Homo sapiens: one gene and its partner. The protein of the gene in region 2 interacts with the protein of the main gene of each other region in a biochemical or structural test. Each region holds a gene or a part of one and is shown on either strand. Other genes may lie near its edges.

Region 1 (7,291 bases), on a different chromosome or scaffold from region 2:
GTCCCAGTCCTCCCAACCTCACAGCCCAGAAATCTCACTATAAAACAAGACTGATGTACATGTCCTGCAAAATCAGTTTAGTGGCTTCGAAATTATACTTGGCAAGTTTGTACATGCACCTACCTTGGATTTCTTCTTAGCTTCCTTCTGCTTTAAGCTCTTGGTCTCTTGTTTCCGCTTATTTCTGGCCTGTAAACCATAAGGGAAGTCATTTCTCCTCAAACTCTGAAAGCATCTCTGCTTGGGCTAGGATTCAAAAACAGACAAGGGTGCTGGGGAGGAGAGGTGAGAGATGGAATGAGGGGTTGGCAATGGATTAATTCTCTCACCCTAGAGATGCCCACGTTATTTTTGAACAAACCCAATTCTCTAAATCAAGTGCAAGAAATTTCAGGGTAATGAAGATATGCTGCTACACAGGGAGTGACGGATGTGGGAAATGAAAATAAAAGATGAAGTAAGTTGTAGGAAAAATTAACCTACTGTTTCATCTCTCTGATGTCCCTCACCTGCCCTTGGATAGTAGTCTGACACTCTCCCCGTTGAACCTTCTGCCTCATCTTCTTCTTGCTTTTAGCAATCTTTGCTTTATCCTCCTCATTCAATGTTTCTGTGAGAGCAGAAAGAAAAATGAAACAAGTGAGGCAGGAAGGCAGTTCTCTAGCATCCAGGGCAACACATGCCCGTCTCAAAGCTGGCCTCCCAAGCAGCTCCCTGAAGAATCTAGAGTAGCTTTTTTTTTTTTTAAGTATACATAATAAAACATTGGGGGAAAAAATGTAGGAGAGGCACCTGCTATGGGGGTGGCACAAAGAACTCAAATGACATCTCCTGCCCAGAAGCACCAGCCCCTGGCTCCAATCAGACTGCTTTAGAAGGTGTCCTGCTGATAGAAAAGAGGCCACAATGGCAGAGTAGCCTTGGAGCCAATCTCTCTCCCAGGATACCTGACAAGAGCAGAAACCCACGGACTGATTTTAGAGCAGAAAGCAGAGAAAGGATACAGCAAGCCAAACTGCCAGGGAAAGAGGGTAGTAGTTAGAAGCACTGATTAACCAAGGGTGTGCCAGAAAAAAGGCCCACACAGTGGACACCTCAAAAGAATCACTGACATAGTTATTGATCATGCTCAGCTCCATGTCTTGCTTCACTAAAAGTTCTGAATTTCTTCCTTTCGGGAAGACTTGTGGAAGTATAATTCTGCAAACAAGAGTATTTCATAATTGATGTTTCTGACATGACTATATATACATATATATATTTTTTGACACGGAGTCTCACTCTGTCGCCCAGGCTGAAGTGCAATGGCACAATCTCGGCTCACTGCAATCTCCACCTCCCAGGTTCAAGCGATTCTCCTGCCTCAGCCACCCCAGTAGCTGGGACTACAGGCGCGTGCCACCACGCCCAGTTAATTTTTAGTATTTTTAGTACAAGCGGAGTTTCACCGTTTTAGCCATGACGGTCTTGATTGCCTGACCTCATGATCCGCTGGTCTCAGCCTCTCAAAGAGCTGGGATTACAGCCGTGAGCCACCGTGCCTGGCCCTGACATGACAATATTTATTATTTTGTTTCTGGTATAGAAACGCCACCACATGTCTACGTGACAACCCTCTAAGACAGATATTATGGGCAGATGAACTACCTAAGGCTTTGATTAAAATATGAGACTTAGCTGGGTGCAGTGGCTCACACCTGTAATCCCAGCACTTTGGGAGGCTGAAGCAGGCGGATCACCTGAGGTCAGGAGTTCGAGACCAGCCTGACCAACATGGAGAAACCCCATCTCTACTAAAAATACAAAATTAGCTGGGCGTGGTGGCATATGCCTGTAATCCCAGCTACTCTGGAGGCTGAGGCAGGAGAATCGCTTAAACCTGGGAGGTTGCGGTGAGCCAAGATCGCGCCATTGCACTCCAGCCTGGGCAACAAGAGCAAAACTCCATCTGGAAAAAAAAAAAAAAAGGGCCAGGCGTGGGGGCTACACCTGTAATCCCAGCACTTTGAGAGGTCGAGGTGGGCGGATCACGAGGTCAGGAGATCGAGACCATCCTGGCTAACATGGTGAAACCCCGTCTCTACTAAAAATACAAAAAATTAGCCAGGTGTGGTGGCGTGCACCTGTAGTCCCAGCTACTCGGGAGGCCGAGGCAGGAGAATGGGGTGAATCCAGGAGGCAGAGCTTGTAGTGAGCCAAGATCGTGCCACTGCACTCCATCCTGGGTGACAGAGTAAGACTCTGTCTCAAAAAAAAAAAAACAAAATGAGACTTGTTCTAGGTCATTTGGTTGAAACATGACACGGCTAGATGTCTGAGTGAAAATCAAAAGACTAAGTTTTTTCACATTCTTCACACTACACCAGGGTAAACACACTATTTACTGAAAAATGTAGGTATTTCTCACCTGTCCATCCACTAAAACAGTGCCTATTATTATTATTATATTATTATTATTATTTTGAGATGGAGTTTCACTCTTGTTGCCCAGGCTGGAGTGCAATGGTGTGATCTCAGCTCACTGCAACCTCTGCCTCCTGGGTTCAAGCCATTCTCCTGCCTCAGCCTCCCGAGTAGCTGGGATTACAGGCATGCGCCACCATGCCTGGCTAATTTTGTATTTATAGTAGAGACAGGGTTTCTTCATGTTGGTCAGGCTGGTCTTGAACTCCCGACCTCAGGTGATCTGCCCTCCTCAGTCTCCCAAAGTGGTGGGATTACAGGCGTGAGCCACCGTGCCTGGCTTTTTTTTTTTTTTTTTTTTTTTTTGAGACAGAGTCTAGCTCTATCACCAAGCTGGAGTGCAGTGGCGCAATCTCAGCTTACTGAAACCTCCACCTCCCAGGTTCAAGCTATTCTCCTGCCTCAGCCTCCCAAGTAGGTGGGACTACAGGCACACACCACCACGCCCAGCTAATTTTTTGTTTTGTATTTTTAGTAGAGACGGGGTTTTACCATGTTCGCCAGGATGGTCTCAATCTCTTGACCTCACGATCCGCCCGCCTTGGCCTTCCGAAGTGCTGGGATTACAGGTGTGAGACACTGTGCCCGGCCTATTATTTTTTTTAGAAACAGGGCCTTGCTCTGTTGCCCAGGTTGGAATGCAATAACACAACTGAAGTTTACTGTAGCCTCCAAACTCCTGGGCTCAAGTGATCCTCTGCTGCCTGCCTCAGCCTCCTGGGTAACTGGGATTATTAAGCACACACCACCATGCCTGGCTCCCAATTATCTTTTGAATTCAGATGTGAATTCTGAACCTCCATGATAGTAGAAATGGGTAAGGTAAAAGGGTACAACTGAACCAGTATATGATAAGGAGCTAAAAGATGGAAAGAAAGGGCAAGAAAGTCCTCTCCTCTGGGCTAAACACACCTGGGGGCAGCCCAAGGTTTCACTGGTAACAGCAACTCAAGAAAGACCATGGCTGGAAAAGTAGTATTCCCAAGCGCTGGGACTAGGATGCTGGATTCCAAGGAGAAGCTGATTCAGATTCATTCTTCCCAGATAATGTTAGTTACACTCCTGGGAAATCCAGGTATTAGCAATTCATCAACATTTTAGATACCTCATGGAGGGAGCAGAATCCCAAAGTAAGAAATACCACTGTACCTTGGGCCTCCAGTTTCTTTAGGGGGCGGTTGTCTGTCTTGTTCAATAGCTCAGTGATTTTGACCTTAGGTGGCCGACCTCGACCCCGTTTCACCTTGGGGACTTCCTTAGTCTTAGCCTTCTCAGTGTTTCGAGGTCGACCCCGTTTGCCAGTAATTGCCTGAATCCTCGACGGGATCTCCTCTGCTGAGAGCTGCACCCACTGCAAGCCCTAAGGTAGCAAGGGAGACTGTTACAGTAGTAAGGAATCAGTGCAGGCCACGAGGCCCTCGGAACCATTCAATGCCCCAGAACCTTCAAACCCCACGAGAGGAAGCTGCAGCTTGTCCACCAACTCTTCCTCAGGGACAAAAGCATATTTAACCCTTGGGTCTGCACCTCTGGCGTGTCTCTTTCTTCAAAGAAATCTCCAACAGGCATACGGGGACTGAAGCTGAAGTGCTCTCGGCGGACACTGTGTACCACGTTGCGGCTCAGGTACTAAGAGGAAGAAGTAAAGTAACATTAATAAAGTTGGATCCTACCATGTCTTTGGCCAGCAAAGGCATAAGCAGAACAGGCCCAGAGCAGACAATGCCAGCCTGTTGTCACTGAGCCCAAGAACGGAGTCTTGGGCAGTGGAAAGGAGTCCACTGAGCCCAAGAAAGCAGTCCTTTAAAAAAAGCTACATTACCTTGATCACTTCTGGAAATTGCTTCATCCTCTTCCCACAGGGGCCATAATACCAGGTCTCCCCCTGCCATCGGTGGCTGCCCTTCTTGATGCGCACCTCTCTCCGCCACCTGCCAGAGAAGCACATGGGCCCTGCCGCCAGGTCACACCCCTACCCACTCCCATGCCACCTAAGCGCGAAGCCCTCTGAGCAGATGGCCCTCCCCACATTTGTATCTCTAGAACTGCATGCAGATGCAAAAGCACCAAGAGAGATAAGCTTGGCTAGAAGGCTGACTTGAGCTCCAGCAAATACATCAAGGCCCTTAGGAGAAAAGCACTACACCAAACTGCACAAGCTCAGAGAGATCTCCATCCCTCCTTTACAAAATCAGTGAGATAAGCTGCCAGAAACCCCTCCCTGAGCCATTCAGGGCAGTTACTGGATTTCCAGTAAAGAGGATAAAGACCTAAGGGGAATAAAGACAGAAGACAAAGGGCAGGGAGGCAAGCAGAAAAATAAATTTGCTGCTGATTCCATGAAAAGACTCAATATGCCAGGGTTTAGTTAGGAACTCTGTGTTCTGAGCAGAACACAAAGTTAGTCAGAGTTAGTTCTAAGACTAACTCTAATCTTTCTCTCAAAATTTTAAGCAGTACTCAGACTTGGTGACCACAAGTAGCCTTGAGGGGCAGGGGTGGGGAAGATCCAGGAAGGCAGTTATTTCCACAAGGCCCTGGTGTCAGCTAGTTTGTTCATTTTGGTCATGTACTGTTCCTGCCCTTACCTCTCCTAAGAGCATTAAAACAACAAAACCACCTCAATTCATTAGTACTAAGTCACTCCTCATTCATTACTATCCCTTGTCCACAGAAATAGGACAAGCCAGCTGGTTTGGATGTGAGCCCTAGGGTTTGGAAAAGATAATAGCTGGAGCTCCTTGGGCAAAATTGAGTCACTACAAGATGAAAAAAGAATAGGTGATGGAAGACAGACCTTGAGAGAAGAAGGAAAACCTAGGAATCTCATGCCAAGAAACATTATCACTGCAGATAACTGTCCTGTAATCTACTCTTGTCTGGCCCATTCCTCCCCCACCTCAGAGGAAAAGAGGCATTCCCTTCTTTCTAGAGTTGTGCATTAAACTTGTCAAGGTCAATAAATGTAGCAAACTAGAGCATTTACCCATGTTGGAGGGGAAGACGAACTTCTTCTGGGGTAGCAATACGTCTCCTCATGACATCACCTTGGGAGGAAGGGATACCCAAGTTAAGAGTTCAAGCAAAATATTTAAACAATAGGCCAATAGGGAAAGGCTAACTACAACATGGGACAGAAAAGTTTCTTGGAACCAGACAGGGATAGAATAGAATCTGGATACTCACCACTACCAGAAGCAGTGAGTCCTTCTCCAGTGATCTCTTCCACGTCAGCAGTGGTTTCTAGAAAGCTGCTGACATCCTTATTTGCTGGGGAGGCTGTTGGAAAGGCAGCTGCTGGGGAAGTTACGGGAGAGGCTTTTGGGGATGTCACTGAAGCCGTCAACGGGACTTCTAAGGAGACTGCTGGGAGGACTGCTGAGGAAGCTGGAGAGACCACTGAGAAGACTGCTGGAGAGACAACTGTAGAAGCTGCGGGACAAACTTCTGGAGAGATTTCTGGGGAGGCTGCTGGAGAAACCACTAGGGAGACTGCTGGGGAGGTTGTTGGCGAGACTGCTGGTGAGGTTGCTGGATGTAGCTGAATAGTGGATGACTGATCAGGAGCTGGCTGGGTCAGGGATGGTGGGAAGTCTGAAGATTGAGTTTCCATTTCTTCCTGTTCAGCGTCACTACCATTATTCAGGTCAAAGCTGTTATCTAGAATCCAAAGGGACAGGATAGGCTTTAAAAAAAAAAAAGGCATCACATAAAACAAGAGAATCTACTCAGTCAACCCTGGACCAAGCTAAACAGGGTTACTTCAAGGGGTCTTCCCTAGGGTTGGAAAAAGAAGTAGCTTTTTCTCCCAACCAATCATGAGGATTAAAGGGTAAAGTTGCTACAGATGTCATTGTGTGAAGAAATACCTTTTACCTGGTGCCAATAAAGCTTCTAGCCTCCTTCTCCCTACAAATTCCAAGTCTCACAAGTTCTTCAAAGCAGAGGGCACAGGTCGGAGTATAGCAGCCTATACCTCTTTTAGTTCCACCATACACTATCCCATAGCCCCTCAGCTCCCAGCAAGGTGCTCTTGCTTTCCTACTTTTTTTTTGAGATGGAGTCTTGCTCTGTTGCCCAGGTTGGAGTGCAACGACACAATCTCGGCTCACTGCAACCTCTGCCTCCTGGGGCCAAGCGATTCTCCTGCCTCAGCCTCCCAGGTAGCTGGGATTACAGGCATGTGCCAACACACCTGGCTAATTTTTGTATTTTTAGTAGAGGCGGGGTTTCACCATGTTGGCCAGGTGGTCTCAAACTCCTGATCTCAGGTGATCCACCCGCCTCGGCCTCCCGAAGTGCTGAGATTACAGGCGTGAGCCACTGCGCCCAGCCAGATTTCCCACTCTTAAGGCCCTAACTATGAAACTTATTCTCTCATCTTTTCTCAGGTAAAGGTCTTTCTTTGTCCTACCTACCGTCACTTACCTTGCAGGACAGACTCCCCTAGGACAGGTGGAGAGGTGGGACTGGCAAAGATAGAGGTTGATGTTTGACTATCATCTGCCAGGAGACTGAAGGCAGTAGCATTATTGAGGGAAGGGCAATCAAGGGCAGAAATCACAGGGCTGTCCTCAAGAGGCAGCTTGTCCTCTGCACCCATCAGCTCCGTGTCATCAATACCATATAGTCCTCCACTCACTGGCTCTGTTTACAAGGGTAGAAAAATCAGAGCAGGATAATGAGAAAAAAATCAGAAAGCAAGATTTAAGAAACACTGGTCAGAAAACATCCAATTCTAGTTCCCACAATGTGAAGATTCTTCCTAATATTAAGTTAGGTAACAAGTAAAGCCTTCTCCCTGAAAGAGTAGTCATGAGATTATAGG
Region 2 (3,399 bases):
CGTGGTGATGGGCGCCTACAATCCCAGCTACTCGGGAGGCTGAGGCAGAATTTCTTGAACCCAGGAGGCAGAGGCTGCATTGAACGGAGACTGCCCCACTGCACTACAGCCTGAGCAACAGAGCAAGACTGTCTCAAAAAAAAAAAAAAATTCTTTGGAAAGAAAAAAAACCCAACTAAAGAGGTTTTGCTTGGGGATGGGGTGGCCGGGGCTCCAAGGGCAGCTCAGTGGTGACTTCTCTCTCCTTATTCCACCAGTTGCAGCACAGAGCTCTGCCTCATGGTCACAGGATGGCTGCTCCACTGCCAGGCATCACAACCCACTTCAGACCAAAGAAGGCCTACCAGCCACGGGGAAGGCCAGCCAAGACTTCCTTTAAAAGGCTTTCCTGGAAGCTACACTAGCAAGTTCCATTTGCATGTCATGGGGATCAACTCACGTGACTCAGTTCTGAACAAACACAGACAGACACACGGAGTGTCTAGCTTCAAACGTGCTAGCTTCAAACTCCACGTGGGTCGCCTTCAGCATGGAAGAGCTTGTTCCTGTCTGACCTCAGCCAGAAGTCCCGTGCAAATCACGAATACCCACCCAGGGTGGTTTATAGGAGAGATTTATTTGAAGAAATATTACAACATATAAAAACTACATAAAGTCTTAATTTCCACTCATACAGTGGTAGATTTGATATAATGCATAATAAAAAACTTTTAAAATCCAGAATGCACAAAGTACTGCACAATTTGATCACTAAATCATTAGTTGATAAGCGAACCTCACACAACAGCTTCATGTCAGCCAAGGCCACAAACACCATGTACCACACATGTGAACGGACAGATTGACATGTTAAAAACACAACATCAGTGCATGTTGGGGATTCCTGGTGCCAGAAACAGGGGTGACGGGAGGGCAGAACTAGTCCTTAGCAGCTTCCTCCTCCTTTATTTTAGCTGAAGGGAAATAAAAGGAAAAGTCACTCTGGGGAACACGCCCGGTGTCACGCCACTTGACAGGCGAGTAACAGACATGGACCATCAGGAAACATTAACGTACTGATGTTAACAGCTGACCCAATAAGTGGCAGAGTGCTAAGGGAACGTTCACGGAGACTGAACACTCCTCAAACGGTCCCCAGAGGGTTCTAGACCCAGAGGCTCAAGTGAGCAGCTGAGGCAGGTGCCTGCTGAGCCAAATTCACCGAGCAGGAGTGAGGGAAACGGCCCCAGGGCCAGCCCAGCAGCCAACCTGACCAAAGGCCTGCTGTGTGCAGCACGCCTGCTCTAAGCACTTGACACGTGCAACTCACTCAATCCTCACAGCAGCCCCTTGAGAAAGATGGGGCCACGAACGTGGGTAGGTGACCCGCCTGAGTCCCAGAGCCCAAAACGGTGGCCAGCAACTGCCCCCACATGTACCCCCAGAGGGCAGTCAGGCCCCAGAGGAAGCCTGGCCCACCCCACCATACCTGAGGCACTCTCTCGGGCTTTGGCCAACATACAAAGCTTGATCTCCAAGCCAATGGCTTTGGCCAGGGGCGGTGGCACGGCATTGCCCACCTGCAGGAGGGGAGAAGGGCAATGCCTGATGTGGACACCCAGGCCCAAGGCCCGGGGGCAGGTGTACTGCCAGCCCCTGCTCAGATGGAGGACAACCTGGGCATTGCACCCCTTGGGGAAGGGTTCTGGTCCTGCTCACATGGGCCCAAAACCCTTCCAGCACAAGATCCTTGGACCCTCCAACTGGCCCATCATCCCGCCCCACAGCCACAAGTCACTGGGCCTTTGAAGAGCTTCAGAAAGACTTGAGACAAAGACACGTGGGGCTGGGAGCAGTGGCTCACGCCTGTAATCCCAGCACTTTGGGAGGCCAAGGCAGGTGGATTAGTTGAGGCCAGGAGTTCGAGAGCAGCCTCGCCAACATGGTGAAACCCCGTCTCTACTAAAAGTACAAAAACTAATTAGCTGGGCATGGTGGCACATGCCTGTAATCCCAGCACCTCAGGAGGCTGAGGCAGGAGAATCACTTGAACCCTGGAGGTGGAGGTTGCAGTGGGCAGAGATCATGTCACTGCACTCCAGCCTAGGGGACAGAGTGAGACCCTGTCTCAGAAAAAAAAAAAAAAAAGACAAATGGGCCACCTAGACACGTTTCGCTCCCAGTTAAGAGTGGCTGCTTCCCTGGCCGGCGCAGTGGCTCATGCCTGTAATCCCAGCACTTTGGGAGGCCGAGGCAGGCGGATCACCTGAGGTCAAGAGTTCGGGACCAGCCTGGCCAACATGGTGAAACCCCATCTCTACTAAAAATACAAAAATTAGCCGGGTGTGGTAGCACATGACTGTAATCCCAGCTACTCAAGAGGCTGAGGCAGGAGAATCACTTAAAACCAGGGGGGTGGAAGTTGCGGTGAGCTGAGATCACGCCACTTCACTCCAGCCTGGGCGAAAGAACAAAGCTCCATCTCAAAAAAAAAAAAAAAAAAGAGAGAGTGGCTGCTTCCCGAGAACCAGATTCGGGGGGAGGGGTGAAATGTGGTTTTCACAAGAACCGTGGACACTGGTTTTTAAGCAATGCGCGTGCCCTATGATGAAAATACACTTAACTGAGACTAACTCATAGACTAACTTGTTAAGCCAACCCGACACCTGAGAAGCAGGTAGGAATTAAGGTGCTAGTTCATTTGAACCTACAGCGAGTGAGCTGTCGCCACCATGGGTTTTAGCCTGCTCCTTTAGCGCGACGGACTGTCCTTCTGGCTCAATCTCTGCCTCAAAAACAAACAGTAAGGAACCAGCATAGGGACGCAGCCTGACTCGGATGTCTCAGCACTGTCCCTCCTGTGGGCCGTCTTCCCACTGAGAGTGATGGGGCTACCCGGCAGCCAGCAGGCGTCCTCCCGGAAGTGACTGCGCTGGCCCCAGCCCCACCTGGTGACAGGCACAGAAGCCTCCTTCCTGTCCAGACCCAGCGGGCGCCGCCCCACTGACCTGCCGGTGCTTGTCCAGGATGTTGCCGAAGAGCCGGTAGGTGTCAGGGAAGCCCTGGGAGCGGGCACACTCCCGCACGCTCACCACACGGTGCTGCTCTGGGTGGAGCACGCGGCCCTGGGGGAAAGAGGCGCGGTGGGCGAGGGCAGTAGCACCCAGGCCGGGTCACCGTCGGGGACAGGGAGGGAAATGGCACTGTGACAGCATACGGCCATGGCCTTGGCCTATGAGCTTGTCCCGTGGACGTGGAGGGGCAGGAGGCAGAGGCCAGGTGCCTGGGGTCCTGGGGTGCTGTCCCCCACTTGGCTAAACCCACACTTCCACCTAGTTAGGCCGCCAAGTACAGGGCCTGACCCAGGCCCTCGGATGCCCCCTCCCCACCTACCTGCTTGCCCATGGGCTCGGGGTTGGT

Evidence for each region.
Region 1: the proteins of DNMT1 (region 2) and BAZ2A form a complex in vitro, tested with the Homo sapiens proteins (one study listed by BioGRID).

Annotation. Positions count from the first base shown.
Region 1 is NC_000012.12:56,606,124-56,613,414, forward strand, and holds part of BAZ2A (bromodomain adjacent to zinc finger domain protein 2A), read right to left. Parts: intron 7,111-7,291; coding exon 6,892-7,110; intron 6,124-6,891; coding exon 5,650-6,123; intron 5,511-5,649; coding exon 5,450-5,510; intron 4,417-5,449; coding exon of another isoform or gene 4,395-4,416; coding exon 4,286-4,394; intron 4,093-4,285; coding exon 3,991-4,092; intron 3,824-3,990; coding exon 3,613-3,823; intron 1,306-3,612; exon of another isoform or gene 793-1,305; intron 611-792; coding exon 510-610; intron 190-509; coding exon 124-189; intron 1-123. UniProt on the Homo sapiens protein: Regulatory subunit of the ATP-dependent NoRC-1 and NoRC-5 ISWI chromatin remodeling complexes, which form ordered nucleosome arrays on chromatin and facilitate access to DNA during DNA-templated processes such as DNA replication, transcription, and repair.
Region 2 is NC_000019.10:10,132,749-10,136,147, forward strand, and holds the end of DNMT1 (DNA (cytosine-5)-methyltransferase 1), read right to left. Parts: coding exon 3,373-3,399; intron 3,105-3,372; coding exon 2,988-3,104; intron 1,560-2,987; coding exon 1,469-1,559; intron 954-1,468; coding exon 919-953; 3' UTR 598-918; downstream 1-597. UniProt on the Homo sapiens protein: Methylates CpG residues. Preferentially methylates hemimethylated DNA. Associates with DNA replication sites in S phase maintaining the methylation pattern in the newly synthesized strand, that is essential for epigenetic inheritance.